4 linked regions of the Homo sapiens genome follow. The protein of the gene in region 3 purifies or fractionates together with the protein of the main gene of each other region. This does not show direct contact. Each region holds a gene or a part of one and is shown on either strand. Other genes may lie near its edges.

Region 1 (7,794 bases), on a different chromosome or scaffold from region 3:
AACACAGCGAAACCCCGTCTCCACCAAAAAAATACGAAAACCAGTCAGGTGTGGTGGCGCGCGCCTGCAATCGCAGGCACTCGGCAGGCTGAGGCAGGAGAATCAGGCAGGGAGATTGCAGTGAGTTGAGATGGCGGCAGTACAGTCCAGCTTCGGCTCGGCATCAGAGGGAGACCGTGGAAAGAGAGGGAGACCGTGGGTAGAGGGAGACCGTGGGGAGAGGGAGAGGGAGAGGGAGCGGGAGCGGGAGCTGGCTGTTTTCATTGATAAAATAGTTATAATTTTTTTTTTTTTTTGAGACGGAATCTCGCTCTGTCACCCAGGCTGGAGTGCAGTGGCGCCATCTTGGCTCACTGCAACATCCACCTCCCGGGTTCAAGCGATTCTCCTGCTTCAGCTTCCCAGTAGCTGGGATTACAGCCGCCACCACGCCCGGCTAATTTTTTGTATTTTTAGCAGAGACAGGGTTTCATCATGTTGGGCAGGCTGGTCTTGAACTCCTGACCTTAGGTCATCTGCCCGCCTCGGCCTCTCAAAGTGCTGGGATTACAGGTGTGAGCCACCATGCCCGGCCCAAATGTTTTTAAATCTTTGACATAATTTCTGACTTACAGAAATATTATGCAGATAGTACAGTTCCTGTGTACTTTTGTCCACACAGTCTTACCATTGGTAAAGCAAATCTCACCATTTGCTTTATCATTTATTCTCTCTCCCTTTATCCCCTCTCTCCTCTGTGTGTGTGTGTGTGTGTGTATGTGTGTGTATTATATTTCCGTTTTTCTGAGCTCTTTGAGGGTAAATTACAGGCATAATGCTCTTTACCTTTAACTTTTTTTGAGATGGAGTCTTGCTCTGTCGCCCAGGCTGGGGTGCAGTGGTGCAGTGGCACGTTCTCAGCTCACTGCAAGCTCCGCCTCTCGGGTTCACGCCATTGTCCTGCCTCAGCCTCCCAAGTAACTGGGACTACAGGCGCCCACCACCACGCCCAGCTAATTTTTTGTATTTTTAGTAGAGATGGGGTTTTACTGTGTTAGCCAGGATGGTCTCGATCTCCTGACCTCGTGATCCGCCTCGGCCTCCCAAAGTGCTGGGATTACAGGTGTGAGCCACTGTGCCCGGCCAATGCTCTTTACCTTTAAAAATAAGGACATTCTCTTACATACCCATAGTACAATTTTTGAAATCTGGAAGTCAGCATTGATATAACACTATTAGCCAATTTATAGACCTTATTCAGATTTCATCAATTATTCTGATAATATTCCTTATAGGAAAAGAAAATAGTAGATTGTGAGTTTTATTTGATTGTCATGTCTTTTTAGTTTCCTTTAAAGAATGACTGAGAAATGGTTCCTTATTCTTTTATGACCTTGAAAACCTTGAAAATTTTTACGAATATGGGCCATTTATTTTGTATAATGTCCCTCAATTTGGGTTTGTTTGATGTTTCCTCATAATTCAATATAGGTTATGCATTTTTGCCTGGCATATCCCAGAAATGAAGTATCTTAGCAGAGGCATTTGATGTCAGTGTGTCCCATAATTGTGGTGTTAACTTTGATCATCTGATTAAGGTAGTGTTGACCCAGTTTTTCCACTGGAGAACTTTTTTCTGAACTCCATTGTAAAATTACTATTTTTCCTTTTGTGATTAATAATTATCTGGGGCAAACCCTTTGAGATTATGTAAATATCCTGTTTATTTTTCAAATGTTAGTCCACTAGTTTTAGCTTCCATTTATGATTTTTACCTGAATCAATCAGTTATTATTGAGATGGCTGCCCAAAGGCTGATTTTCTTAATTTTTTCTATGTGCATTCATTATGTATCTATATATTTGTTGGGAACGGTTTTCCCTATTTTTCATTTATATATGTATAGAATGATGTATTAATTTATCACTATAGATTAATGGATGGGTATTTTTATCAACCAAGATCTGGTAGTAAATGTGTTTACTGCTATTGGATCTGATTTTTTTTTTTTTTTTTTTTTTTTTGAGATGGAGTCTCGCTCTGTTACAGCCCAGGCTGGAGTGCAGTGGCATGATCTCGGATCACTGCAATCTCCCCGTCCCGGGTTCAAGCAGTTCTCTGCCTCAGCCTCCCGAGTAGCTGGGATTACAGGTGGCTGCCACCATGCCCAGCTAATTTTCTTGTATTTTTAGTAGAGATGGAGTTTCACCATCTTAGCCAGACTGGTCTTGAACTCCTGACCTCGTGATCTACCTGCCTCAGCCTCCCAAAGTGCTGGAATGTCAGGCCTGAGCCACCACGCCCAGCCTGATCTGATTATTTTTAATAATGAGAATACTGGCTGGGTGTGGTGGCTTATGTATGTCATCCCAGCACTTTGGGAGGCCGAGGTGGGCGGATCACCTGAGGTCGAGAGTTCGAGACCAGCCTGACCAACATGGAGAAACCTCATCTCTATTAAAAATACAAAATTAGCCTTTGTATTTTTGTATTTGCTTATATATGCAAAGAATCTATTCCTTCCTTTTTGGAAGGAGTCACAAGAAACTAGTAATATTGGTTACCTTTACAGAGTGAAACCTGGATGGTTGGAAATGGGAGTAGGGTGGAGACTTTTCACTTATAAATCTTTTAATTTTTTTACTGAATTAATTAAAAGTTAAAAATTCACACACTGGAGGTCTAAAATTACTGAAACACATGATCTGAATGTAAGAATTCTAATCAAACAGTTTACTTAAGTAATACCTGGGCAGATAGCCAAGATAACTTGGTTATCTTGGTAGATGACAATAGTAGAAAAATTGGTAGAAAGTTGGCAACTTTATTTATATACCATGATGTGTGTACTTTAGTCTTAATGAATATTTTGTTTTCTTTTGGCAGCATGCATATGCGCTAGAACTTCTATTTGATCAGTTGCATGAAGGAGCTAAAGCTCTTGATGTAGGATCTGGAAGTGGAATCCTTACTGCATGTTTTGCACGTATGGTAAGAGTTTTATTTCTCACTCTGGCCCCAACAGAAGAATATTATATGATTTGGCTGTATGTTTTTTTAACTAGTGGTTTTCATGTTTATTTGTTTGTTAATTCTATTAGGATAGCAGTTGGAATGAGCATCACTTAGGATTTTGTTGTTGTTGCAAGTGACAGAACATGCAACCCAAACTGGCAGAGCTAAAAGGGAGTTTATTTAGTTCATATAACAGAAAAGTCTAGGGGTGTATACGGTCTGTTGTGTGGCTGGATTTAGAAGAGCAGATGTTGTTATTGACGATAGGGTTCTCTCTGTTTCTTGATTTGGCTTTACTTTCCTCCACATGTTGGTGTCATTATCCGGTAAGCTCTACCCTTGTAATCACAAGATGGTGGCCAGTAGCTCCCAAACTACCTTCTTCCAAGTTCTGATTTGGCAGAAAAGAATAGAATAAGCCTGGTTTTCTTTTCTTTTTTTTTTTTTTTTCTTCTTAAAAACAGAGGTTTTATTGCATTTGGTCCACAGTTGGTATTTCACCTTATCTCATGGTGCAGGGACCCTGGGTAGGGGACTCTCTACAGTACTTGGTGGGGCATGTGGCTGGGGGAGACAGAGCAGTATAGCTGGTCAGGCCCAGAAGGGGAGAAGGAAGGCTGGAGGCTCCTTAAAACCTACTGAGGGACCAGACGCGGTGGCTCACACCTATAATCCCAGCACTTTGGGAGGCTTAGGCAGGCAGATCACATGAGGCCAGGAGTTCGAGACCAGCCTGGCCAACGTGGTGAAACCCCATCTCTACTAAAAATAGAAAAATTAGCCAGGCATGGTGGAGCACCTGCAGTCCCAGCTATTCAGGAGGCTGAGGCAGGAAAATCCCTTGAGCCCAGGAGGTGGAGGTGCAGTAAGCCTTGATTGCACCACTGCACTCCAGCCTGGGCAACAACAACAACAACAAAAACCTACTGAGGCACAGTGTGGGGGGTGGGCTTAGCATGGAGAGGGGGTCAGGCTTAGCCCCGACAACTCAGAATTCTACTTCCTTGTACAGGCCTCAGTTTCCCCACCGGGCCCTGGGACATGTCTGAGGGTCCCAGGGAAATCCAGTCACTCAGGAGCCTGAGATATTTAGCATCGTAGCTGGGCCCCGTCTCCCAGGGGACTCATTTCCCAGCACCCTCTCCACTGTCCCTGCCCAGAATGAGCCTGGTTTCTAAACATTCCTGCAGATTTACCAGGATGAAGGTAAAACTTCTGCATTAGAAAAAGTGCTCTTAGAAAAATAATGCCTTGTTATACTTCTGCCTTTTCTCATCAGAGTCTTATCTGGTCAATGGCTATCCAGAGTATTAACTGGGGACCCACTAATATATGTTGGAGTAAAGGTTGATCATTGCTTAGATCATCACATCAGTTTGATTTGAGAAATATCGTGCCTGGAGGACAGATTGGAATATTCTGATCTAGTTAAATTGGGAGTTGTGGATCCACCTTGGACTAGAATCCATGTAACTTGCTATAAATGTATAATCAGCAGACTTACTAGAATGTAAGCTCCAGGGAGTTGGAAATTTTGTCTGCTCTTTTTTATCATGATGGTATCCTAAACATCTAAAACAATGCCTGGCACATAATAAGGACTCATATTTTCTCAGATGTTTTGCTCATTTTGTAGAGGTTAAGTCCTCATTAATGGATATCAGTGATTTTTTTTAAGGTTAGAAATGCCATTTAATAAATGACTCATTCTCTATACTTGACATGTTTATAGTTTTAGAGGATGTATTCATTTTAAAAAATCATTTGGTTTCTGAGTTGTTTTTCATAAAATGGCATTAATGTTTTTCACACATTTACCATGTGTGAAAGTACTTTGTGTTTTAAGCACTAGAGCCTGTGTTCTAAGTGCTACCCCATTTTTATGATGGGGTTTATGCCTTTTTCCTCCCCATTTTGTACTGAGGAACCTGATTCATACAAGGAATGATAGGCCGGGTGTGGTGGCTCACGCCTGTAATCCCAGCACTTTGGGAGGCCGAGGCAGGTGGATCACCTGAGGTCTGGAGTTCGAGACCAGCCTGGCCAACATGGTGAAACCCCGTCTCCACTAAAAATACAAAAATTAGCTGGGTGTGGTGGCACACGCCTGTAATCCCAGCTATTTGGGAGGCTGAGGCAGGAGAATTGCTTGAGCCCGGGAGACAGAGGTTGCAGTGAGCTGAGATCACGCCACTGTACTCCAGCCTGGCCAACAAAGCGAGACTTTATCTCAAAAAAAAAAGAAGGAACGGTTAACTTGCCAAGGTATGTATGTATGTAAGTGATGACACTTAGACAAGAACCCAGATAGTTTGACTTCAAAGCCTTTATGTGTTAATTTTTTAAATTTTTATATTTTTTCTTGAAACATTTATACTTAATATTTTAATTTACAAATAAATATGCAAAGAAGGGATTTTTGTTGTTGTTGCTTTTTGTTTGTTTTCTGAGACAGGGTCTCAGTCTGTCATCCAGGCTGGAGTGCAGTGGCACGATCTCAACTCACTGCAGCCTCTGCCTCCCAGGCTCAAGTGATCCTCACACCACATCAGCCTCCTAAGTAGCTGGGACTTAGGAGGCACATGCTACCACACCTGGCTAGTTTTTGTATTCTTTTGTAGAGATGGGGTTTTGCCATGTTGCTCAGGCTGGTCTCAAACTCCTGGGCTCAAGCAGTCTACCTGCCTCTGCCTCCCAAAGTGCTGGGATTATAGGTGTGAGCCACTGTATATATTTTCATGTTTTCTACTAAAAGCAGTAGAAACAAGTGTAGAAATTCCTTCCCATCAGGCGGGAGGCAGGGTGTGTGGTGGCTCAGTCCTGTAATCCCAGCACTCTGGGAGGCCAAGGCGGGCAGATCACGAGGTCAGGAATTTGAGACCAGCCTGACCAACGTGGTGAAACCCTGTCTCTACTAAAAATACAAAAAAATTAGCTGGGCATGGTGGCGGGGGCCTGTAGTCCCAGCTACTCAGGAGGCTGAGGCAGGAGAATTGCTTGAACCTGGGAGGCAGAGGTTGCAGTGAGCTGAGATCGTGCCACTGTACTCCAGCCTGGGTGACAGAGCGAGACTCTCTCTCAAAAAAAAAAAAAAAGAAATTCCTCCCTGTCAAATTCTTTATGTAACATTTTAATATTTAAAGTTATACTTTAGATGGAATTTAAATAAAAAATTATTGTACTACTATTAAATATTGGTAATTTTCTTCAAAGTTCTAGATTTAATCTAAGAAAGATATAATTTTTCTTAGTATTACAAGTTTTATTCAATGAGAGTGATAGTTGAGAAAGTTGTATATATGGTAAATAATTTATGATAAACTGAGTGTTTAGCAATCTATAGAAGCCTTAAGCTATTTTTGTTTTCTCTTTGTAGAATATGACTTTCGATAAGGAAAAACTTCAATAATACTTTAGAAAAACAAATTTAGCCCAATGAGCTACTGAATTGTTTTCTCTTTTCCAGGTTGGATGTACTGGAAAAGTCATAGGAATTGATCACATTAAAGAGCTAGTAGATGACTCAGTAAATAATGTCAGGAAGGACGATCCAACACTTCTGTCTTCAGGGAGAGTACAGCTTGTTGGTAAGTATCAGAAAACTTTAAAAATTTCTTCAGAGGATTTTTATTTTCAGAAGATCCAATGCAAGCTAAATAATACTCAGAGGTAATTATTGTATTTTTTTTTACAATCACTTTTAAGTACTAAAAAATAAAAACGATTATTTTTGCTCACCTAGTGTGTATTTTGCAGCCATCTCTTTGTGAGTTTAATTTTGTATTTTCCTATTAACCTCTGAGATTGAATTTTTTGTAATGTGTCTGACCATTAGGATTTTGTCTTTTGTGAAGTACCTGTTCAGATATTGGATTGCTTGTATTTTTGACTTACAGGGCTTCTAGCCCTTTGTCTATATATATAAATACATTTCTTCTCCCATCTGAGGTGTGCCTTTTCATCTTATTGGTACCCTTTTGATAATAGAAATTCTTAATTTTAATGTAGTCAGACTTACCAATTTTTTTCAGTGCTTTCTGTGTCCTTTTTAAGGATACTCTGAGACCATGAAGATATGTCTCTTATTATTTCTTAGAACCTTTATCATTTTTAGCTTTTCATGTTTAGGTTTTTGATCTTCCTGATGTTGGTTTTTGTGTATGTGTGAGGTAAAGGTGCAGTTATATGTTTTTGTGTATGAATATCCAGTTGTATTCCCCAGACACACTCAGTTTTGTTTAAAAGATAAAATATTGGCCAGGAGCGGTGGCTCACACCTGTAATCCCAGCACTTTGGGAGGCTGAGGTGGGCAGATCATGAGGTCAAGAGTTTGAGACCAGCCTGACCAACATGGTGAAACTCCGTCTCTACTAAAAATACAAAAATAAGCTGGGCGTGGTGGCGCACGCCTGTAGTCCTAGCTACTCGGGAGGCTGAGGCAGGAGAATCGCTTGAACCCGAGAGGTGGAGGTTGCAGTAAGCTGAGATCGCACCACTGAACTACAGTCTGGCGACAGAGCTAGAGTCCGTCTCAAAAAAACAAATAAAATAAAATAAAGGCCCGGGCAGCTCTAGTAGCCACAGCCATCCCCTAGAGGGATCTGGCTGAGGAGGAAGTGGAGGTGTTGCTTGCCTTGGCCTTTGCCCTGATCCTGTGTGGACACTGAAAGGGGAATACAGGAGTAAACCACACCAAAATGAGTCTCATGTTGCCAGTGAGGGACATGAGAGATCAAGAGATAGACGAAGGTCAAGTGACAGATCACGGGATTCATCTCATGAAAGAACAGAGTCTCAAC
Region 2 (7,794 bases), on a different chromosome or scaffold from region 3:
CCTGTACCATGTTATTCCATTCTGAATCCCCAAATAGGAAACACCATTCAACTTGTTAAGCGATTCCTTGTGGTATTTATCTCCCTAGTTCTAACAGGCTTATGAGACTATTTCTTGGTTTTTCAGTTTATGACATTTTCTATTGATTTTCTACTTTGGGAAATGAGGATATAGCTCTCTCCTTCCTACCTCCCATCCCTGCAACACACCTGGTTTCCTTCCCCCATCTTCCCATCGTGGTAATTTTACACTTTTTGGTAAAAATCAATGGTTACCTTATTATTATTATAACCAAGTAACTGTTGTCCATCACTGAGCCACACGCTCTAATGTGAATCCATTTATTTTCTTGCACAACTTTTTGTTCTTCATAGAATTAGCAATACTGTATTTTTTATTTTGTTTTCTATGAGTCTATCAAAAAGGCAACCCCAAACCTACCAACAAAATGTAAAACTCCTTACAAAATAGTCCATCACAGTCATCATTTGATGAGTTTTGGTATTATTCTTTTTTTCTTGGAGGCATTCCTCCACAAGCTCTCTTCTTTCCAATCTGCATGGGTTTGTCTCTAGACCAGCCCCGCCACTGATCCAAGATTCTCCTCATTATTTATTATCTTGGGAATTCCCTTTACCTCTGTCCTGTCCTGTATCCCATTCATATATCTTCCTCTGTGAAGTATTGAGATCTTTTGCCCATTTTTAAAAAATCGGGTTTCTGTCTTCCTATTATGGAATTGTGAGAATTCATTCCATATTTTAGATCACAAGTCTTCAGTCAAATATATGTCGCAAATATTTTTTCTCATCAGTGACTTTGCCTTTTCATTTTTTAAGGGTGCCTTTTGAAGAGCAGCTGTTTTTAATTTTGATGAAGTCCAATTTGTCAGTTATTTGGTGGTTAGTGATTTGGGGGTTTCAGCTAAGAAATCTTTGCCTTGTCTAGAGTTGTAAAGATTTTTCCTTTAGATCCAACAGGCCTGCCCACTCCTCTGTATTTGGAGCCATTCTGAGACATCTTCATTATTTACTCCTTCCTTTTTCCTAATGTCTCCTAGTTATATCTGTAGCCAGGGGCCCAGATTCTGTTATGATCTAACAGTCCTCTAATGCTTCTCTCCCATTATTTCTCTGCACTAAAGCTCATCACCAACAAAATTGTTGTACTGTTGGTGCCAATGAAAACCATCACCTCCTGAGTTGTTTTCATACCAGTTCTATCTAAAAATGTTCTTTTTCTTCCTTTAAGTTTTAGAGAAAAAAACAGCCTTAGGGTCTGAGCTCATTCATTCATTTATTTGTTCCTTTTCAACAGAAAATGTGTCTGCCCACCATGGACCCAGACACTGGCAGTTGGGCGTGCACAGCATAGCTGGGCCCTGTCCTGTGTATTTCCAGTCTGGTGTAGAAGGTGGAACATGCCATTATGGGTGTGATCTGTGTGGCAGTTGTGAGGTGGACGATCTGCCACATGCCTTTCCCTCTGAATTCTGAATCAATTGAGAAATTAATATTAGAGGCCAATGGAGTCAAAGGCTCAGACTTACTGCTGGTAAAGCTAGACTAGAGAATGTGGTTTTCACCCAAGGCCACACCAGTGTTCCTATGCCTCCTACATCTCATTAAACTTGCCACTAGGTAATAGGCAAAGCAGCTGCATAGATACACGCCTCCCTTCCTCGGGATGGGCAGGGGATGGTTACTGCAAGAAGCAGCCAGAAACCTAGAAGGGAGGCCACATACTTGCAGGCAGGCAGGTCCCAAAAGAGCGAGCCAAGGTCAGGCCAGGCTCCTCTCATCACACGTGCCTGAATCCCCATCTCTCCAAACAGATAAGTGAGTTAGGGTAAGGAGAAGGGAAATAGGGGAGTAGAGGCATTCTCCCCCATGACTTCTGCAGGAGAAGTTTTGATTTTATAAACTCAAGCAGCAACTGGCCAAACGGTTTCAAAAACAAAGGTTGTAAAAATTCTTTAGAAAATTTTATGTTAAAAAAGTTCTATTTGATGTTGTCTGTGAGTGCCTGGTCTATGGAGAGGCCTTCAAAAGCCAAGGCACTTCTCAAAATGCTCAAATTGTGGCCCATGGGCCAGCTGCTATTTGTCAGCAGTGAACAACAAAATTGGGAGCTCATGCGAGGATGAAAATCAGTTGCATTGCGAAGAATGCTGTTAGTTGAGCTGACATTTGTGTTTTGTAGCAAGACTTTCTCAATGAATGAAGCCAAGTGCTGATATACGTACATTCTGGCACACATCTCTTACCTAGCCATGCGCTGGCACTTTGAGTAGCACTGGCCTCATGCCTCTGGACATCTCACTCCCCGCCTCCCCTGGCAGGGCGGTGATGGGTAGTAGACAGCTGGTGTGCTGGACATGGTGAACATGACCCTTGGCCTCTTCCTGCCCAGGTGATCGCCATGATCAAAGGCCTGCAGGTGCTCATGGGCAGGATGGAGAGCGTCTTCAACCAGGCCATCAGGAACACCATCTACGCGGCATTGCAGGACTTCGCCCAGGTGACGCTGCGTGAGCCCCTGCGGCAGGCGGTACGGAAGAAGAAGAATGTCCTCATCAGGTGGGTTTTCAGATGCCTTCAGGAGCATATCAGACATAAGCATGCCAGGTACCCATCAGAGAGGATGTCCTGGCTCAGCCACTGAACACACATGGGTCCTTCCAGCAAGCTCCAGAGGGCTCTTTAGGAGATTGGGCATTTGGGATGAATTAAGCCTTCATCTCTAGAAGTCCATATCCACTGCTATCTAGCTGTGTGAACTTGGTCAGGTTGCTGACCTTCTCCAAACCTCAGTTTTCCTCATTTGTAAAATGGGGATTATAATGCTACCTGCTGCCTGTTGGGATGATGAAATGAGATGGTCCATATATAGACCTAAGCACATGCAGCATGGAGTAAGTATGCAGCACATCTAAGCTATTATGAAAACTAAGCACACACAGATTTCATAAGACCGGTGAGACTCCCCTATAACCAGAAAGGAAATACAGACCTCTTGCCTCACACAAGTTCTGTCTCACTCGATGGGCTCAGAGCTGAGTTCTCAGACATCCCTTGGACATCAGAACCATGTAGGACACTTGTTTAAACACAGATTCCTGGACTGTACCTTAAATCTGTTAAACCAGAGTTTTGGAATTGGGGCAGAAATGAGCATGCTTTACAAGCACCCCAAGAATTCAAATGTGGGTGTTCCTGGGACACCACGGGCCCTAGAAACACAAGCTTGTAGTGACGTTTTCCCATGGTGAAACCTGGTCTAAGTCTTAGTTCTTCCTTCCCCAGCGTCCTACAGGCAATTCGAAAGACCATCTGTGACTGGGAGGGAGGGCGAGAGCCCCCTAATGACCCATGCTTGAGAGGGGAGAAGGACCCCAAAGGTGGATTTGATATCAAGGTGCCCCGGCGTGCTGTGGGGCCATCCAGCACACAGGTAAGCGGCTCCAGGCACAGGCCAGCTGCGTTGACTCAGAGGCCAGCCGGGCTATGGTAGATCATCATGGCTGGCCATGGGCAGTGGGACTGGGAGCCGTCGGTCAGGAGGGGCAGGGTTGAGTGGCTGCTCCGGTCTTATTCTGCCATCTTGTTTTGATATAGGAAGGAGGACCACTGGCTTAAGATTCAGGAGACCTGGATTCTAGTCCTAGATACCTGTGTGACCTCGGGCACTTTACAGATCTCTCTGTGCCTCAGTTGTTTAAACTGGCTAATGGGGATAATACCACCACATCCACCTTGCCTGGCTATCTTCTAGTCCTATGAAGTATAGATTCCAAAGTGGAGGAGGAGGTTAAAGTGGAATCTATCTGCATGCATCTATGCTGCCCCTCTTTAATAAGTCCTGGCCCTTTCCCCTAAAAGTTCTGCCTCTGACTTGCTGTGTGATCTTGGGCAAGCACCTTGAGCTTTCTGAGCTCTGATTATCTTCTCTGTAAAATGAAAACTTTGGATGAGATTGTGTTACTAACAAAATATTCCTTAGTTCCACATCCTTCCAAAAGTGCAAGTATTGAAAGCCCTTGTCCCCTTAGAGGAAGTCTAGTATTTGGAAACACTCAGAGTTGCCAGCCAGAGCTTCTGCACAAGAGGTCGCCCGTGGCTTATCCAGAGCAGTCATAACGTTACAGAAAAAAAAGTCAATAATCTGGGCATCTTCGTTAAATCCCTGCTACCTACTTAAGGATAGGTAGTTTCTGGTAATATTTTTGATGTACTGGAAAAAGCAGATGGTTCTCATTGCAAGTTTAAGGGTCTCACAGGCCTCACTTCCCATGACCTTTAAGCCTCTCTCTGTTCTCAGTCACCCAAGATGGACCATCTGAGGCCCACCCCCGACCCTTCTCCCTGTGTGTGCGTCTGTGTCTGTGCTGGGGGCTGGGGCAGGGGAGAGGTGGGTTCTCGGCAGGGTCATCTTAACTCCCCTTGGCTTCACAGCCCTCTGCTAGTTTGCACCAATCTCACCGGCTGGTTGTAGAACGCCCCAAGGAAGCGTCTGCAAACAGTTCTGTGTAATATCAAGGGTTGAGGTCCGGGAGACACTGAGCAGGGCTTTCAAGTGTTTCTGTAAATTTTAAGACATGAGTGAGCAAGAGACAGACAAGGCACAAAAGACACTGGAAAGGAGGAGGAGGGGACTTAACAGGCAGAGAGAAAAGGAGAGGAGAGGAAGGAGTATTTGTGTAGATAATGTGAGAGGGGTGGGTCACCAGCAGTAAATCCCGCCTCACCCCCAACCTCTACCAGGTCATGCTAGGTGGCACAGACATGTTGAATAGACTCGTAGACAACCAGAGCTGGGAGCGCTATTAGAGAAACCTAGGCCCTCCCCCTCTCTTGCGGATGGGGAAACTGAGGTCTAGAGAGGGGAAGTGACTTGTCCAAGTCACAAGGTGAGTCCCAGGTGGAGGTGGGACAAGAACCCAGGTCTCCTGACACCCACCCAGGGCTCTGGTACGGTCTTCAGGACACAGTAGACATGGGCATCTTGCATAGTTGGGATAGAGACTGTTTTGGTGAATTAAATGCTCTGTTAAGTAAAAGTACGTGGGAAAAAAGTTCACCTTCTTATGGGTGAAACCAGTTTTCAGAGAATTAGAGTTGGATATCAACTGGACAGCACCCACAACAGATTAGACTTGGATTCTTCCTTTGAGGACTTGAGAGGCCGTCATGAGAAGAGTGCTTCTCGGCTCCTAGGGATGGTGAGACAGGCCCTCCAACAGGGCTGCAGATGGGGGACTGTCTGAGGCACTGACGGCCACTGTGGCTGCTTTCCCACAAAGGAAGCCCTGTGGCAGGGATGGTGGGTCACACGTTTCTGTGGCTGCTCTACCCGCATCAGTGCCAGGCATGTGATGGGGGAGATCCCAGGGAAGCTCCAGAGGCAGCGAAGACGAACGCGGTTGCTGGGAGGTTGGAGTGTCTCAGAGGTGGCCCCCGGCAGTCGCGGCGGCTTTCCCACCGTATACAATACCTCTTGCTTTTCTCTCTCTCTCTCTCTTTCTCTCTCTCCCTCTTCCCTGTCTCTCCTGCCCTCCCATTCCCTCTTCCTTCTCTCCTATCTATGTCTTAGGCCTGCCAGTGGTCCCCGAGGGCTTTGTTTCACCCCACTGGTGGCACACAGGGCCGAAGAGGCTGCCGATCCCTGGTATCACACCGCCTGGCTGGGTTGGTTTGGGTACCCTTCTCGAGGAGGCAGCAGGAATGGACTAGCCTGGCTCCTCAAGGCCCCTTCCAGCCCTAAGATTCACAGACAAATGATGTGGAGAGATCTAGATTAGCAAAGAGAACCACCCCACCGCACTTGCATCCTTTGCACTTAAGGCACCCTGTAAGCGGGAGTTAATTGTCTAGTAGCCTCCTGTGTAAGTACCAATGTTAACCCGCCTTCCACCCTGAACTTCAGCAGGCTGTGCAGTGCAGCTGATGCCACCAAGGGGGCGCCATCGCTCAGCCATGGGGTCAAAACGCTGAGGGTCAGGAACAGGTGTGGGAGGGGGTTCGTTCTGATCTTATCCCATTTCTCAGTTCCTCAGAATGTTAGTGCTGAAAGGGACTGGTGTGAGAAGGCATCTGGTCCAACCCCCTCATGTTACATGAGACAACTGAGGCCCAGAGTGGGGGCTTTGTTGCCTAAGGTCACACAGCAAATCAGCAGCAGTGCCTGGCCTTGAACCCCGGTCTTTTGACTCCCAGTCCAGTGCTCCACCCATGGCATCTGTGGCCCTCTGGGAAAGCAGGGAGTGACTCCAGGGTGACACGTAATGAGGTTCTCCTCTGATATACACGCCCTTGGCCAAGCAGAGCAGGGAGCTACCTGGTGTGGCCAGGTCCACTGGCCCAGGGATGCCACGGGGCCCGGGTTGGCCATGAAGGTTTTCACAGTTCCACATTTATTTCTCAAACCTTAAACTGGTGCTTCCTTAGGACAGTGCTTTTTAAGAGCAGACATCTGCAGAAAAAAAAAAATACATAAATACAACATGAAGCAACCTTTTTCCCCGGGGTAGAGGGCCAGCTTCTGACCTTCTCATCTTGCTTTCTTTTTCAAGCTGTACATGGTGCGGACCATGCTTGAATCACTCATTGCAGACAAAAGCGGCTCCAAGAAGACCCTGAGGAGCAGCCTGGATGGACCCATTGTCCTCGCCATAGAGGACTTTCACAAACAGTCCTTCTTCTTCACACATCTGCTCAACATCAGTGGTGAGCTGCATCCCATCCCTGCTAAGGCATGGGAGGAGGGGATGAGGGCTCTCAGAGCCGCTAAGACCACCAAGCCAGGCATTGCAAAGGGACGTGACCGTTGACCCTAAGGGGCACATATCACCACCAAGGAAAAAACACATACACTTTCCAGTGGGCTTTTGGAGCTAGGAAAGGCCAGGTTCAACTCAGCTGTTCTGACTTAGCTAAATTTGTCCAGGAGATACTTGTGGCTAATTTGTCATAAAGTCCTTAGTAGAGCGGGATCAAAAACAAGAATACGTACATACAGACACACGGATGCTAGACTTTTGCTACTCAGCCGCAACCAAGCGCTAATTAGTACTTGCTGCTGCCAGCAGGGGAGGCTCTCGAGCTGCATCCCAGTCCTGTGTTCTTCACACTTCCTCTCCTTTTAGTAAGATGTATGTCCAGAGCAGAGGAAGAGTAGTATCTCAGGAACATGAGTCTTCATATGTCTGCTGGCATTGACAAGAGTGATTGTAACAAACAGTACAAACTTCTCCATTAGAGAGTAGCCCGGGAAGGGCCTTCAAGGTCTCTAAACTGTATGGGATCTGGCAATTATCACACGCGAGGAGTCAAGGAGCCACAATCCAGTTGAAAGTGGGCACTCGGGGGCCTGTCTTGACACTGTGTTTGTATAATGAACACACTTTTTTTTTTTTTTTTGAGACGGAGTCTTGCTCTGTTGCCCAGGTTGGAGTGCAGTGGCACTATCTCAGCTCACCGCAACCTCCGCTTCCCAGGTTCAGGCTGGAGTGCAGTCGTGTGATCTCAGCTCACCGCAACCTCTGCCACCCAGGTTCAAAGAATCCTTCTGCTTCAGCCTCCCGAGTAGCTGGGATTACAGACATGCACCACTGTGCCCGGCTAATTATTTATTTTTTTAATTTATTATTATTATTATTTTTTGGTATTTTTAGTAGAGACGGGGTTTCGCCATGTTGGCCAGGCTGGGCTCAAACTCCTGACCTCAAGTGATCTGCCTGCCTCAGCCTCCCAAAGTGCTGGTATTATAGGCATGAGCCTCTGCGCCCGGCCACGA
Region 3 (7,629 bases):
ATGATCGAAACATACAGAAAATAAATGTAAATTGGAGGTTTTCCAGGCATGTGAAATATTATGTAATTTATATGTAAATTGCACCACCAACTACCCAAGTGCCCAAGCCAGCAATCTTACCACCAACATTGACTCCTGTCTTGCATTAACTTCCATATTTAACCATTCACCAACCTGTATTGATTTTACCTACTAAATATTTATTACTCCATCCATTTCTTTGCATCTCCTCTCCCTGGAGATCACCATCATTTCTTAGCTGGATTGATTTCATAATCCTCAAACTAGTGTCTGCCTTGAGCATTGTTTCCCTGGTCTTTTCTCCATAGTGCATCCATCCTGAATTTATCTGATGAATACGTGAACATTTTGAATTTTCCAAGATATGAGGGAGGTCAGTCAGTATATAACGATTATATATTGTAATTTGATATTTGTTTGACCCATTTTTAGCCTGAAATGAGCAGCAACATGTTCTTATAAAGGAGATAGGCTGAATGTGTGTGGTGGCTCATACCTGTAATCTTAGCACTTTGGGAGGCCGAGGTGGGCGGATCACCTGAGGTCAGGATTTCAAGATCAGCCTGGCCAACATGGTGGAACCCCATCTCTACCAAAAATACAAAAATTAGCCTGGCGTGGTGGCGGGTGCCTGTAGTCCCAGTTACTAGGGAGGCTGAGGCAAGAGAATTGCTTGAACCTGAGGGGCAGAGATTACAGTGAGCCAAGATTGCACCACTGCACTCCAGCCTGGGTGACAGAGTGAGATGTTCATCTAAAAATAAAAAATAAAAAAAAGTAAAAAAAAAAAGATGCCTATTAAATCATATACAAAATTAATTGTTTTTATGCATTTTTAATTTTTTTTTCAGAGACAAAAGTCTATGTTGCCCCATACTGGTCTCAAACTCCAGGGCTGAAGTGATCCTCCTGTCTCAGTCTCCTGAGTAGGTAGGACTCCAGGCACGAGCCACCCTGTCCTGCTAGAAGTTATGGTTTTTAAAGGTAAGATGTGCTTCTATTACATGGGACTTAGAAGGGGCTAATAATTTTTAAAACACTGGAATAAATTTAAGAAAGATATTTTTTTAAGATGGGTTATAACTTCACAACCTCATACATGGGTATATTAGATTTGTATAATTTTGAAAATCTTCTTGTACTAAAGCTCTTAAATATGGCTTCTTAGAGCAATGAGTTTGCTTATTTACGTTTATAAGAAGTTCATGTGAAGTGTGTACAACTATTATAATTGTAACTCTCTAAGGGCTTGAAAATGCACTTTTATCATATCAGTTCATCTGAAAAACTGTAAAATTGAACAGATTTCAATTACCTTCATCAGCTTAAACAATGGAGAAGTAGTGGAAGATTTTCATGAGGTACACAATCTCATCCTTGAACCTAATAACTATATACTCTTTTACAGATTTTGTAGTTATCCTTTTTTGCTTAATCAATCTTGGTGGCAGCAAAGTGTTTTGTTTATGTCCTTGCATCTCAGATTCTGCTGTGTACAAAGCACCTCTCTAGATGGAGTTTCCCAGCTGCCAGAAATTGGAATCATAGACTTTTTGAGCCAGAAGGGCCGTTTCATAGGCATCAGCTGGGAACTTGTTAAACCTACATTAATAAATTGGGCCAGACCAACTGAATAAAGAACTCTGGAGGTGTGGTCCAGCAATCTGGTTTAGAAAGCCCTCCAGGTGATTCCAAACCACACTCAAGTTTCAGAATTCCTGACCTGAGTTTCACCCTTTGATTTCTCTTTCTTTTTCGAGACAGAGCCTCCGTCGCCCAGGTTGGAGTGCAGTGGCGCGATCTCGGCTCACTGCAACCTACGCCACCCTGGTTCAAGCGATTCTCCAGCCTCAGCCTTCTGAGTAGCTGGGATTACAGGCACCCGCTTCCACACCCAGCTAATTTTTGTATTTTTAGTAGAGACGGGGTTTCACCATGTTGGCCAGGCTGGTCTCGAACTCCTGACCTCAGCTGATCCACCTGTGTCGGCCTCCCAAAGTGCTGGAATTACAGGCGAGAGCCACCGTGCCCGGCCTCACCCTTTGATTTCTTGATAAGGAAACTAGGTCCAAAGAGATTGTCACTAATTAGAGAAAATACTAGAATCTTTTCTAGGTAATTTCTAGAATGACGAAACATCCCAGAGGGAAATTTGTTTATTAGGCTAATTGCTAAGCCATAGTTGAAAAAATGCTGGGTGGGAATAAGTAATGATAGGGGAAGAGTCTGTCTACCATTTAACTCACCTGATGAGCTTCTTCAACATTATTTTTTGATCTATTGAAGTTTAGTCTGAAAGAAAAGTTTGCTTCATCTAACATTTGTTTTATTCACTTGATTATTCATATGTCGTATTCACTGAAGCAAGTTGATGTGTCATTTAAATAACTACTCATTTCCATCACTCATGCTCTCAAACTAATGAATCTTAGTGTGTGTGACCCTGCAGCTTTCATTTTTAACAAGCTCCTCACACTGAAGTTTGAGAACCACTACTACAGAAGATGGTTAAAGTGCTTAAGAATAAAACTAGTTGGACTAGACCAACATTTTCAATATCCTTTAATTTAGGTTCCACAGTGAAAACTCATACATTCTGCTAATGTATGTATCATGAAGCCAATATAACATTAGGGTTTGCTCCAGATATTTGTAATGATATGGTATTAAAGTGATTTTTTTTTTTTTTGAGACGGAGTCTCGCTCTGTCGCCCAGGCTGGAGTGCAGTGGCACGATCTCCGCTCACTGCAAGCTCTTCTCCCAGGATGACGCCATTCTTCTGCCTCAGCTTCCCGAGTAGCTGGGACTACAGGCGCCCGCCACCATGCCCAGCTAATTTTTTTATTTTTATTTTTAGTAGAGACGGGTTTTCACTGTGTTAGCCAGGATGGTCTCGATCTCCTGACCTCGTGATCCGCCCGCCTCGGCCTCCCAAAGTGCTGGGATTACAGGCGTGAACCACCGCGCCCGTCCTAAAGTGATTTTTTTTTGAAAGTATAAGTTTCCTCATCATCTGAATGAAAAAAATTCACTGTAGGAGGGCCAAGAGATCACCAGATTAAGAAAAGTGTTGAAACAATGGATCTTGTTCTAACTACACAAGTCTAAGATGGTACTGCCTGGAATCAACTTTGATTTTCCACAGCACAAATAAAGGTCATGGCTTCATATCTCAGCAATGGTCAGGAGTTTTAGTTTTTCCAGATTACATTGTGTGGGGTAGTCTGATTTAGGAAAACAAGACACAGTATCTGGAGAATAAAAACAGAATTATAACTCTGCAAGAGGAAAATTATCTGCCTTGAATTTTTGTAGCACTTAATGTTTTTTCAAGGTATTTTCACAATAAACGTTGATTTTATCTATGTAACAGCCCTGTGAAGAAGGCAATTACTACTAGCAAAATCGTTTTCAAAATTTTAAATACTGAATCCATGAATAGGAAAAAGGACAGCGAAGTTGATAGCATTAGAGAAATGACAGAAAAGGTTATGAGTGAGGAAGCGAATCATAGAAATGGCAAACATAAAAAGCTGAGGCCCACGGCACCGCAAACCAGGAGAGAAAGGGGCTAATCTGGCAGGGGAGAACAGCGTTAGTGGGGAAGTGCAAAGAGGCAGGGGCGCAGGAAAGCTGGGGTTAGGAAACTGCAATTCACTGCAACAAAGAGGATGAGGTCAAATCTGAGAAAAATGAAGTCAGGTGGCATTGAAAGCTGCGTGGAAGTTTTATTCCTGCCCTGTTGAGGTGTGATCTTTCACAGAGGAGGGTCCCAAGAGTGGAGGCTGTGCCCTCCTTCGGCCTCCCGTCAGCAGCAGAGGGAGAAAAGCCTCGAGAAGTTCCCTAGGCCGATGACCTCCATGGGGACGGAGCCGAGATGAGTCCCGGAGGGAGCCGGCAGGAAGCCAGCTGAGCAGGGTGGTGTGTTCCCGCCGGGCTAACAAAGGCCGCCGGGAGGTGGGGGCTTCTCCAGCCGCTCCAGCGGCGGGCGGGCGGCGGAAGGGTTAACTGCACCACCAACTCCCGCGCGCATCCCGGCCCCTACCCCCGCCGTCGCTAGGAGACGCCGGAAGTGGGGGAGGGGCCGGCGGCGCGGGCGAGGGTGGGAATCTTTTTCGGGCTCCCGGGGGCGGAGGGAAGGGAGCGCGCGTGCGCGCGCCCGGCCGGCCGTCGCCGCGGTGACCGTCCTCGGAGTCCGTCGGCTCGCGCCCCGCCCCCGTCGCCCCCTCCCCTGTCGCGCGCTGGGGCTGTTTCTCGCTCCTTCCGAGTTACCGCCGCCGTCGCCGCCGCTCCTCCTCTCCCGGTCCTGGGTTTCCTTGGCGCTGCGGCCGCCGCTCCCTCTGCGACCTGTATGAGGAGGAGGAGGAGGAGGATGTGAAGATGGCGGAGCTGCAGATGCTGCTGGAAGAGGAAATCCCGGGGGGCCGCCGGGCCCTCTTCGACAGCTACACAAATCTGGAACGGGTGGCCGATTACTGCGAGAACAACTACATACAGGTGCGAAGCATCCCCAGCTGGGCCGCGTCGGGGACCCCCCCGCCGGGGGCCGCGCGCCTCGGGGCGTGGGGCCGAGGCCGCCTCGGGGACACGGCCCAGCGGAGCCCCCGATGGGGGTGGGGAGCTGGGTGAGGGCTGGGGCTGGTGAATGGGTGGGAATTCTCCGGCTGGAGAAACTGCATTTTAAAAACCTTTAAAAAAGCGGTGAAGCAGTTCTCGGCGTGGTGCGTGTGTCGCGTCCCGCCTCCTCGCCGCTCCCGCCCTCGGCCGCCCCCGCACTCCGCGCCGGTCAGCGTTCCGGATGGCGGAGGGGGCGGAGAGTGGCATTTTCTGTTTGACGGAATCCTGCTCCCCACCTTAGGGTAGGGGTGTCGCGGGTGTTGACGGGTTACCTCCATCCCCCAAATTCTGGATGATTTTTAAGGGGTTATCTTGCTGCAGAGTGAAGTGCTTCAGGCTTCAGTTTTCTGTTCCTGTGAATGCTTCAGAAACCCTTTCTTAATATTTTATGTTCTAAAGGGGATACGGTAGAAGAGCAGCAGTTTCTTGTTGGAAGTTAATGCCATTTTTTTCCCTATGGAGAAGGATGATGAGCTGATTCCCCCCTCCCTCCTAGTTCTGTTAGAATAGGCAGTTTTCCTGGGGGTGGGAGGAGGACAGACTATGACTGTTTCTTAGAGAGAATTGGGAAGATGAACCTCCTGGTTTAATTTTTTTTTTTTTTTTTTTTTTTTACCGTGATGGATCGTTTGGCTCAAGGGCTGATAGTGGTAGGGGCGTGTGTATGGAGGCGGGGGATACCGGATGGTATGAGATCCAGCTGCTCCTGGATGAAGCAAAATATTCTGTGGATTAAAAAAATCCTTCTTTAAAAATTACTTGAAAGGATAGCAGGTTAAAAGGCACAGTTTGCAAAATCTAAAATCTTTTGCTTTTTTTTTTATGGTTATTTTGAATTATGGGTTCTGCCTCCATTTTTTTTCTTTCCCGTTTAAATTCTCTTGGGATAAAGATGGAAATGGAAGCAATATGTTAAACTGTTTCTTCACAGTCTTTTTTTTTTTCCTTTTTTCTTGCTCCCACCTCCATCTCTCCAGGGATCCTTCTTTTTTCTTTTCTTTTTGAGACACAACCTCGTTCTGTAGTCCAGGTTGGAGTGCAGTGGCGCGATCTCGGCTCACTGAAACCTCGGCCTCCTAGGTTTGAGCAATTCTCATGCTTCAGCTTCCCGAGTAGCTGGGACTACAGGCGCCCGCCACCACAGCCGGCTAATTTTTGTATTTTTAGTAAAGATGGGGTTTCACCATGTTGACCAGACTGGTCTCGAACTCCTGACTTCAAGTCATCCACCCACCTCGGCCTCCCAAAGTGCTGGGATTATAGGCGTGAGGCACCTTTCTTAACATTAGCTATATAGGAAAGCATTTTCATGTCTTAGTGTAAATTTTAAAAAACAGGTGTTACAATTTTATAGGTTCATAAATTTTGTAATGGCCACATTGTTGATCGCGGAAGTGAGATTTTGTTTGATTAGACATACTGTTATCTTGTAGACAACATTTGTATTTGAGAATGACCCGAACCACTGTATAAACCTGTTCCTTCGAAAGAGGCAGTTGACTATGGCTACTAGGAAAGGAATGTAGGCAAGATTAATACAAAAAAATACAAATGTCCACTTGTAATGTACTTTGCTGATACAAGTGGGGTAGAAAAGATTCAGAGGTTCAGGCCTGGGCGATAAGAGTGAGACTACATATCAAAAAAAAAAAAAAAAAAAGATTCACTTGCTCAATTTTTCGCTAAAATTGAAAGTCTTTTATGGCCTAGAACTGTGTGAGGGGTGGATGGTACATACCTAGTAGGAGAGGCTGATCTTGGAGGAAATTAATACCATGTAGTTAATTTATACTCTGTAGTGCACTGCTGGTACCAAGGAGGACTGGAGGAAGCAATGCTGTTCTGAGGGATTTCACAATCTCTAGTAGAGGCAAAACCTAAAGGAATGAAGTGGTAATTCCATTGCCTTGTGCAGCATATTATGGGGAAAGAGTTGCAGGTCAGAAGAGAAACTGAGGGTGGAAAAGTGGATTGCAATTATTACCAGTAAGAAATAAAAAATAAACAGATTTCTCTCTCTTTTGCAAGATGATTTCTTATTGTAATTTGAAGGTACAAGTTCCTCTTAAGTTATAATTGCTATATAAAGGTAAAAGGATAAGGATTATTAAAGCTGAAAGGTTAAAGGCATCAGCAGTTTTCTTTTTAAATATTTTATACATTTCCTTCAGTTGAAAAGAGAAAAACGTTACTACTATCAATCTCTGTTTTAGCAATGGGACTCAAAATTTAGTGTGGTGACATTTTAAAATTTAAAGCATAAATATTGATTAATATTAATTTAATAGAAATGAACTTAGATTTTAAAATAGTTTATTTCTTCAGTTTAGCATCTGAAGTATATTTTACACTTTCTCTTTTTTGATTATCATTTATTTTAGGATGCCTTAGGTATATAATTGGTACACTCTCAGGATGATAGCTCTTATATGATTTGTTGATTTGTTGGGAAAGTTGATAAATAGAACGTGGTGACAGTGGATTTGTGCTGATCCAGCTGTACATTTGGTTGACCAGCAGGGGTTTTGATGCTGCCTGGACCCTGCAGTAGATGAAAGTTAATTCACAGGATCAGTGATCAAATGGTCAATTTAGCCTTTTTTTTTTTTTTTTTTTTCTGAGACAGAGTCTCACTCTGTCGCCCAGGCTAGAGTGTAGTGGCGCGATCTCGATCTCTGCTCACTGCAACCTCCGCCTCCTGGGTTCAAGCGATTCTTCTGCCTCAGCCTTCCAAGTAGCTGGGACTACAGGTGTGTACCACCATGCCTGGCTAATTTTTGTATTTTTAGTAGAGACGGGATTTCCCCATTTTGGCCAGGCTGGTCTGGAACTCCTGGCCTCAGATGATCGACCTGCCTTGGCCTCCCCAAAGTGTTGGGATTACAGGCGTGAGCCACCGCACCTGGCCAATTTAGCCTTATTATAGCATCATGTCTTAGCCACTAGCTCGAGTTAACTAACCCAACACTCATTTTATTGTGTGGAAATGT
Region 4 (7,794 bases), on a different chromosome or scaffold from region 3:
AGAAGCTCTAAAGCCTGACCAATTTTGTGTTCAGATCCTCATATTGTTTTGCCCCAATAATAGATGTCTTCTGTTTTTCCTGCATACACTCTTCATACTGGTTGTAAAGCATTTGAACCTTCATGGTACATTGGTAGTCTAAATGCTTCAGTATAATGCTCTGATTTCATTATTCTCAGCCCTGGAACTGGTCATTATATAAACAACCTCATTGCATTGATTTTTATATGATCTAATGAAAATATTTCCTCCAAGATTTTCATAAGACTTGCAAATTGTTAGTTCTTGGAGCTTTTTTTTTTAACTGCTGAGTATTCAGTTACCTATTTTAAGTAACAATTTTTAGGCATTAGTGTCCTAAAAATAACAATTGCTACCATTTATTGAGTTTTACTGTGTGCCAGCCAAAATGCTAGGCAATTTACGTAAGGATTTTTATGAAGGTTAAATGAAATAATTTATTAAGTATTTGTTATTTCTGTTTTACAAATGAGGGAACTGAGATTTAATTTAGGGAGTTTCAGTAATTACCAAGATCACACAGTAGAAGAGCCAGGATTTGAATTTTGTTTGATACTAAAGTTTGTGCTCCTAAAACCACTATAGTCACAATACTGTATAATTATTTTTGGAAACTTTGGTTAAGAACTAAAACTATCTAGGAATATTGTATCCTGGGCTTTCATATACCAGCAGCATTTGGGTTGATATTAGCTGATTGGGAAGAGATCTATTGTAGATTTTTTAAAAATCTATTTTTAATGAACAATTATTGTTTATTTTGCTTGAAAGAGTGAACAGAGAGATCTGGAAATGTTAACATTTATTGACATAGAAAGATATTTGTAATACGTGAAGAAGGTAGATTATAAACTGCAGAGTATCAACCTTTAAAAAACAATCTGTACATGTAAGCAACAAAGAAAAATGTTAAGTCTACATTGTGGCGGCTCTCACCCGTGGTTACCCTTGGAATCAGTTGTGGAGACATCAGAAAATTATTGTTAAAAGTTTTAAAGTTACTGTAATTTATTCATAAATTAGAATTATTTTCCCTTGATATGATTGAATCAGATAGTAGAATATTTTACAATTATATTCCAGATATATGCTACTATACCATTAGAAAGACATTTATGCTTTTAAAAAAAAATCTGTACTAAAACTTTAAAATTATTAAAGACTTTTTTTTAATATGTTAGACATCTTAATTATAAATAACCAGATGAGGCAGCTTCCTTTTTTCATAATGCTTAATTTCTTTCTTTTCCCATTCTAGGAGCTACAGCGGACTAAGCAAGAAGTCCTCTCTTTGCGAAGAGAGAATTCTACACTAGATGTTGAATGCCACGAGAAAGAAAAGCACGTTAATCAGCTACAAACAAAAGTGGCAGTTTTAGAACAGGAAATCAAGGATAAGGACCAGCTTGTTTTAAGAACAAAAGAGGCATTTGATACAATCCAGGAACAAAAGGTCTACTTTTAAATTTTTCTCAGAAATTGATAATCATATTTATAAGTAAACACAAATGCCCTAATTATTCATGTTTTTAAAAAATATATCAGGTGGTTTTAGAAGAAAATGGTGAGAAAAATCAAGTACAACTAGGAAAGCTTGAAGCTACAATAAAATCATTATCTGCAGAACTTCTGAAGGTTTGTTTTAAAAATTTTATAGACTAGTATTTCATTAAATTACATAGAAATATACATATGAAGCTCTTTTATAGGCAAATGAAATTATCAAGAAGTTACAAGGGGATCTGAAAACTTTAATGGGTAAGTTGAAATTGAAGAATACAGTTACTATTCAGCAAGAAAAACTCTTGGCTGAGAAGGAGGAAAAATTACAAAAGGAACAAAAGGAATTACAAGATGTTGGACAGTCTCTTCGAATTAAAGAGCAAGAGGTAGTTAATATTTTAAATTTTTATGTTGTAACTAAATTTTTTCCTCGTTTTAAAAATTTATGCTTTGTTACATTAACAAATGGCTTTGGTCTTGTTTTTTTTTTTAACAAAAGAACATGACTAGATTGAGTAGATGGTAATAACCTGTTTCAGTTTGGAAAGTTAGTTATCATGATTCAGATACCTTGATTGCTCATGTATGTCTATGTTTGTATACACATGTAAATATTTTATTACATAATTGAGCTAATTCCTTTATTCTCATTTAATAATAGTAGTAGTAACCATTTATGTAATTATTTAGTTAATAATAATACATTCTTCAGTTTTTATTTAACCTTTATTTTGCTTGACTTATTGTGATGATTGATATATTTCAGGTATGCAAATTACAAGAACAATTAGAAGCTACAGTTAAAAAACTTGAAGAAAGCAAACAACTTCTAAAAAATAATGAAAAGTGTAAGTATGTTACGTGTTAATGTAAATGAGGTTTGTAGTTTTATTCTTTTATTTTTTTGAGACACGGTCTCACTCTGTCACCGAGGCTGGAGTGCAGTGGCATGATCTCAGCTCACTGCAGCCTCCACCACTTTGGTTCAAGTTATCCTCCCGCCTCAGCCCCCCAAGTAGCTGGGACTAAGGTGTGCACCACCACACTCAGCTAATTTTGTGGGTTTTTTTTGTAGAGACGAGATTTTATCATGTTGCCCAGGCTGGTCTTGAACTCCTGAGCTCAAGTGATCCACCCGCCTTGGCCTCCCAGATTGCTGCGTTTAGGTTTACAGGTGTTAGCCATCGTGCTCGGCTGTAGTTTTATTCTTAACCTGAAAATTTTATTCGAATTCATAAAAGTAGACATTGGCCAATATATAAGTAATTTCTGCTTTAAATATACTGTCTTAATGCCTTTTCTATAATAAATTTATATCATCTGCCCAGTAAAAGAGTTATCATCTTTATAAAGAAAACCATATCCCATAGGTCAGTAACCCACAATTAAAACTGTTGAAAATGTTGACTGTAATTTATTGTTTAAATTCTTCATTATTCCTTTTTTTAATAGCTGTGTTTACCTAATAATAACAATATGAATTGTTTGAAAACAAAACATAAAAATAAGATTTTAACTAACATTTTCTCAGTTTATACTACTGGGTATCATACATAAGATTGTGAATTTTAAGTAAACTGTAAGATATTCTAGAAGTGAAATCTTTCAAAGAGTTGCTTGACTAGCAGAAATATGTGCTTCGGAAAGTAATACAATAAGGAGTCCTATGTGGCAGCTTCTAAAATAAGAAACTTTAATGACAAAAATTTAGGTGAACCTATATTGCTCTCCTGTGATGTCAGGTAGTTGTAAAAACTTATAATTTAAAAATCTTAATATAATTTTTAAATGTTTAAGATGATTAGAAAAATAAACAGTCAATATTCTTTACCTTGCTTCTTGTTCTTTTATTTAAGTAATCACGTGGTTAAATAAAGAACTAAATGAAAATCAGCTAGTGAGAAAGCAAGATGTATTGGGACCTTCTACTACTCCGCCTGCACATTCCAGCAGCAACACAATCAGAAGTGGAATTTCTCCTAACCTGAATGTGGTAAGATTTAAAACAAGATGTGAGTGATCTTAGTGAATTTCCTGAAACAAAAGTATTTCCAGATTGTTAGGAAGTTTCCATGATTTAAGGTGCTGATACCAATACAAAGTGGAGTCCTACAATTGCACTGAAATAGAGTTTAAGTTGCCCCTGGAAGTGGAACAAAGGCACACTTGCTCTGAACAGAGGCTGAGTTTCAAGAGCACATTTCTTTTTTTTGTTTTGTTTTGTTTTTTTTTTGAGATGGAGTCTCGCTCTGTCGCTCAGGCTGGAGTGCAGTGGCGCGATCTCGGCTCACTGCAAGCTCCGCCTCCCGGGTTCACACCATTCTCCTGCCTCAGCTTCCCAAGTAGCTGGGACTATAGGCGCCCACCACCACGCCCAGCTAATTTTTTGTATTTTTAGTAGAAACAGATTTCACCCTGTTAGCCAGGATGGTCTTGATCTCCTGACCTCATGATCTGCCTGCCTCGGCCTCCCAAAGTGTTGGGATTACAGGCGTGAGCCACCGCACCCAGCCAAGAGCACACTTCTTTATAAGTCTTGACTGGATATTGAAATCTTTCAATGCTAACTAAAGTAATACCAAATATACTGAAAAACTTGAAAACACATAACGTAAAACATTTAGGAGACTTGAAGAAGAGAGAATTCAGGGTTTAGGCTTAAGCCTAAACTGAATTCTATCAGAAAAAGAAAAGAAAGTAAAAAAGAAAAAAGTCCTATTAGCAGGCTTGTCACCTTTAGATTCTACAAGAAACTGGTTATGAGATATAAACTTTCTAGCTCCCAGGACCAGATTTTTTTCTCTTTTGAGACAAGACCTCACTCTGTTGCCGAGGCTGGAGTGCAGTGGTGGGATCATGGCTCATGGCAGCCTTGACCTCCTGGGCTCAGGCAATCCTCCCACCTCGGCCTCTCAAAGTGCCGGGATTATAGCTGTGAGCCACTGTGCCCAGCCCTGCTTTTTTTTTTTTTTTTTTAACCTGAGAAAAAAGGGAGGCTGGGCACGATGGCTCATGCCTGTAATCCCAGCACTTTGGGTGGGAGGCTGAGGTGGGTGGATCACCTGAGGTCAGGAGTTCAAGAGGTCAGCCTGGGCAACGTGGTGAAACCCTGTCTCTACTAAAAATACATAATTCAGTTGGGTGCAATGGTGCATGCCTATAATCCCAGCTACTCGGGAGACTGAGGCAGGGGAACTGCTTGAACCCAGGAGGTGGAGGTTGCCATGAGCCAAGATCGCACCACTGTACTCCAGCCTGGGCAACAGAGTGAGACTCTATCTCAAACAGAAAAAAGGCAGAATAGGAAAAGCAGCTTCTTACATTCAGAGGTGGTTTGGTACTATCTGATAGTTAGGCCTAGGTGCTGCTAGGAGCTTACCTAGCATCCGCACATAGGCCTGGGGCTCTCCTGTTGAACACAACAATTTCATGGAATATTAACATCAGGCAAGGTTACTCTGTGACTCTGTCAATACAAAAACAAGACTGTTTCATAATCATGCCTGAATACAGACAAAAATATGAACATTGCTAAATCACAGATATGGCCCATAAGCATCCTCATATCCTGGCTAACATGAATGGCTGCTGCTGCTTTAATTACAGCTTTGACCTTAATACATTCCTCTTGCTTTATTAGATAGGATTTATTCAGATACCCAGTCATACATTTATCCCCATTTCCCAGTAGCTTCCAATCCACAGCAAAGCACCACTTAAACTTTTTCTTAAATCACCTAACATGTGCCTAAATCCAATAAATAAGTCCCTTTTAATACCCACTTTTGGAGATACCCATGTTTGTTCATGGTGTGCAGTTTCCCTTGTTGCAAGGAGCAATAAATCTAGCTCGTATATCTATACATGGGTTCCTGGTGGTCCTTGGCTACAGGACATTGGCAGAAGGTTTAAAATTCAGATTCCTAATTGAATTTTTAACCTAATCTACTCTGGTAAGTCAGAGTACGGGATGTCTAAAGAAGGGGAAAGATTGCTGTTAAATTGGAGAAGGGTGCAGAAAGAAGTGCCTGGGGCTGAATTACAAACTTAAAAAAGATTTTTTGTCCGGCTTAAAATTTGAATGACTGATGATAGCTGTGTGAAAGGTGTTTTTTTGTGTGCATCCATTAGTGTGCACAAATGCTTCTCAAGATTTCTGTTACAACTGGTCTCAGTATAAAAATAAACTTTTTCATAACGTTGGTTAATGTGTGGTGCCAGTATATTGAAAATTAGTGGCAAAACCAATTACTGTCTCAATTAGTCCATTTAAGAACACTGATCTTGTTTTTATGCAGTCTGACAGAAAATTAGTTTTATTTTATCTCTGATTGGCCTATTGATCTCCAGACTCCCCCATTCCCCCCTTTTTTAGGAGACTTAGAGTGAAACAAGTTGGTTCAGAAGCTTGGCTTTAACTTAGTACAAAGGCAGGCCCAGTAGTTTGTTTTATCCAAGCTTGCACACCTACCTTGAAAAGCCCTCTAGTTCAAAGTTATCCTAGCCCCATGGTAGATAATAAAGCAGAGTTGTGTGGCATGATAAACAAGACTGGCGTCTGAGATAGTGCTCTCTTAATTATTAGTTATTATAACAGATGCTAATGCCACCTGATCAACAAATACTATTTAGAATTAATTTATCATCTTTAATCATCTTTATGTTTTTATTTTTAGGTTGATGGTAGACTGACTTACCCAACCTGTGGGATTGGTTATCCTGTCTCCTCTGCATTTGCATTCCAGAATACCTTCCCTCATTCGATATCTGCCAAAAATACCAGCCACCCTGGTTCAGGAACAAAGGTAGCCAAATTAACTAATACTTGTTCTGGGAAAAAATATAGCAACCTATTAGCATACAAACATTTCACATCTTTTAAAAGTTCATTTATTCTTTGGTCAGTTGTTAAGTAGTAGGTAGTGTATTAGATAAATACATTACTGAATATCTAGTATCTATGTGTACAGGAAATATATGCACTATATATTTCTTGAGTCACTGTAATTTCTAAAATCTTGACATCAGTCTGTTTAAACCTCACTTATTTCTACTCAACCTCTCCTTTTTTTTTTTTTTTTTTTGAGACAGTCTTGCTCGGTTGTCCAGGCTGGAGTGCAGTGGTGTAATCTCAGCTCACTGCAGCCTCTGCCTCCTGGGTTCAGTGATTCTCGTGCCTCAGCCTCCTGAGTAGCTGGGATTACAGGCATGTGCCACTACACCCAGCTAATTTTTTTGCAATTTTAGTAGAGGTGAGGTTTCGCCATGTTGGCCAGGCTGGTCTCGAACTCCTGGCCTCAAGTGATCCGCCTGCCTTGGCCTCCCAAGGTGCTGGGATTGCAGGCCTGAGCCACCACGCCCGGCCAGCCTTTCCGTTTTTATTCATTCTTCTACTTGTGTCTCCTACGCTCTCAGGCCTGGCTAGGATTTCTGACTTCATACTGTTGGAGTCTGAGCTATGATTTGGAGTCCATTGCTAGAATTTAAAGGTCTGGTAGGGCAGGCTTAAATCAAATTCTAAAATTTAGTTCTGACAGCATTATCTCAGATAAGATATGACTAGCAATCCCCCCAACCCTTGATATATTTGTTAAGGCTTTCTTCTACCTACTTCTTTTTCCTCATTTTTATTATTATCTTAGATTTATGTATTTTTTATGTATTATAATTTTGTTTTCACAATAGTTTAATCCACCCAGACCAGTCACTGCTTTTATTTTCATTGCTAACTTCAGATCCAGGTTTATTTTTTCTTAAATAATGAGACAAATAAACATTTATGAAAAAATATTGTATAAAAGATAAAATTGAGGACTTTGAAACTGGTATTACAAACTCTATCAAATTAGGTCTGGGCTACTCTAAAAATAAGTTGGCTGTGTTGCTTAGGCATGTGCTCTTTTTAGCCATAGCCTTATTATTGCCAGTAGCTATGGAGAATTCTCAGTTAAATGAAAATTAAGCCTGAGTTTTTATGCCTGGAATACTGTTATGTAAAGAGTACTTAGATGCATATAACTGGCTCTTCTTGCATTGCTTATTAAGGAGAATTAGATATGTGCATTCGAAGGAATGTCTATTGTTTTATTATCAGTTTCAGTATACTCAAGTGTCGTTGTATCTTGGGATCATTTTTTTTCTTTAGAATTATAAGTGAATTCACAGTTGTTTTTTATTTAAACAACTTTCCAGGAATATATATATAATGTCCAAAATGAGGACAAGTACTACTAGAGACAGTTGCCTACTTGGTAGGACTAAAGATGGCTT

The links.
Region 1: the proteins of ABI2 (region 3) and PCMT1 purify together in Homo sapiens (affinity purification with mass spectrometry; 3 studies listed by BioGRID and IntAct, with this or other methods). This does not show direct contact.
Region 2: the proteins of ABI2 (region 3) and CYFIP2 purify together in Homo sapiens (affinity purification with mass spectrometry; 3 studies listed by BioGRID and IntAct, with this or other methods). This does not show direct contact.
Region 4: the proteins of ABI2 (region 3) and SASS6 purify together in Homo sapiens (affinity purification with mass spectrometry; 2 studies listed by BioGRID and IntAct, with this or other methods). This does not show direct contact.

The regions. Positions count from the first base shown.
Region 1 is NC_000006.12:149,787,089-149,794,882, forward strand, and holds part of PCMT1 (protein-L-isoaspartate(D-aspartate) O-methyltransferase), read left to right. Parts: intron 1-2,865; coding exon 2,866-2,970; intron 2,971-6,460; coding exon 6,461-6,581; intron 6,582-7,794. UniProt on the Homo sapiens protein: Initiates the repair of damaged proteins by catalyzing methyl esterification of L-isoaspartyl and D-aspartyl residues produced by spontaneous isomerization and racemization of L-aspartyl and L-asparaginyl residues in aging peptides and proteins.
Region 2 is NC_000005.10:157,317,350-157,325,143, forward strand, and holds part of CYFIP2 (cytoplasmic FMR1-interacting protein 2), read left to right. Parts: intron 1-2,412; coding exon 2,413-2,579; intron 2,580-3,305; coding exon 3,306-3,453; intron 3,454-5,592; coding exon of another isoform or gene 5,593-5,667; intron 5,668-6,571; coding exon 6,572-6,725; intron 6,726-7,794. UniProt on the Homo sapiens protein: Involved in T-cell adhesion and p53/TP53-dependent induction of apoptosis. Does not bind RNA. As component of the WAVE1 complex, required for BDNF-NTRK2 endocytic trafficking and signaling from early endosomes.
Region 3 is NC_000002.12:203,324,113-203,331,741, forward strand, and holds the start of ABI2 (abl interactor 2), read left to right. Parts: upstream 1-4,281; 5' UTR 4,282-4,402; coding exon 4,403-4,519; intron 4,520-7,629. UniProt on the Homo sapiens protein: Regulator of actin cytoskeleton dynamics underlying cell motility and adhesion. Functions as a component of the WAVE complex, which activates actin nucleating machinery Arp2/3 to drive lamellipodia formation.
Region 4 is NC_000001.11:100,101,490-100,109,283, reverse strand, and holds part of SASS6 (spindle assembly abnormal protein 6 homolog), read left to right. Parts: intron 1-1,279; coding exon 1,280-1,474; intron 1,475-1,566; coding exon 1,567-1,656; intron 1,657-1,730; coding exon 1,731-1,910; intron 1,911-2,290; coding exon 2,291-2,372; intron 2,373-3,380; coding exon 3,381-3,517; intron 3,518-6,200; coding exon 6,201-6,329; intron 6,330-7,794.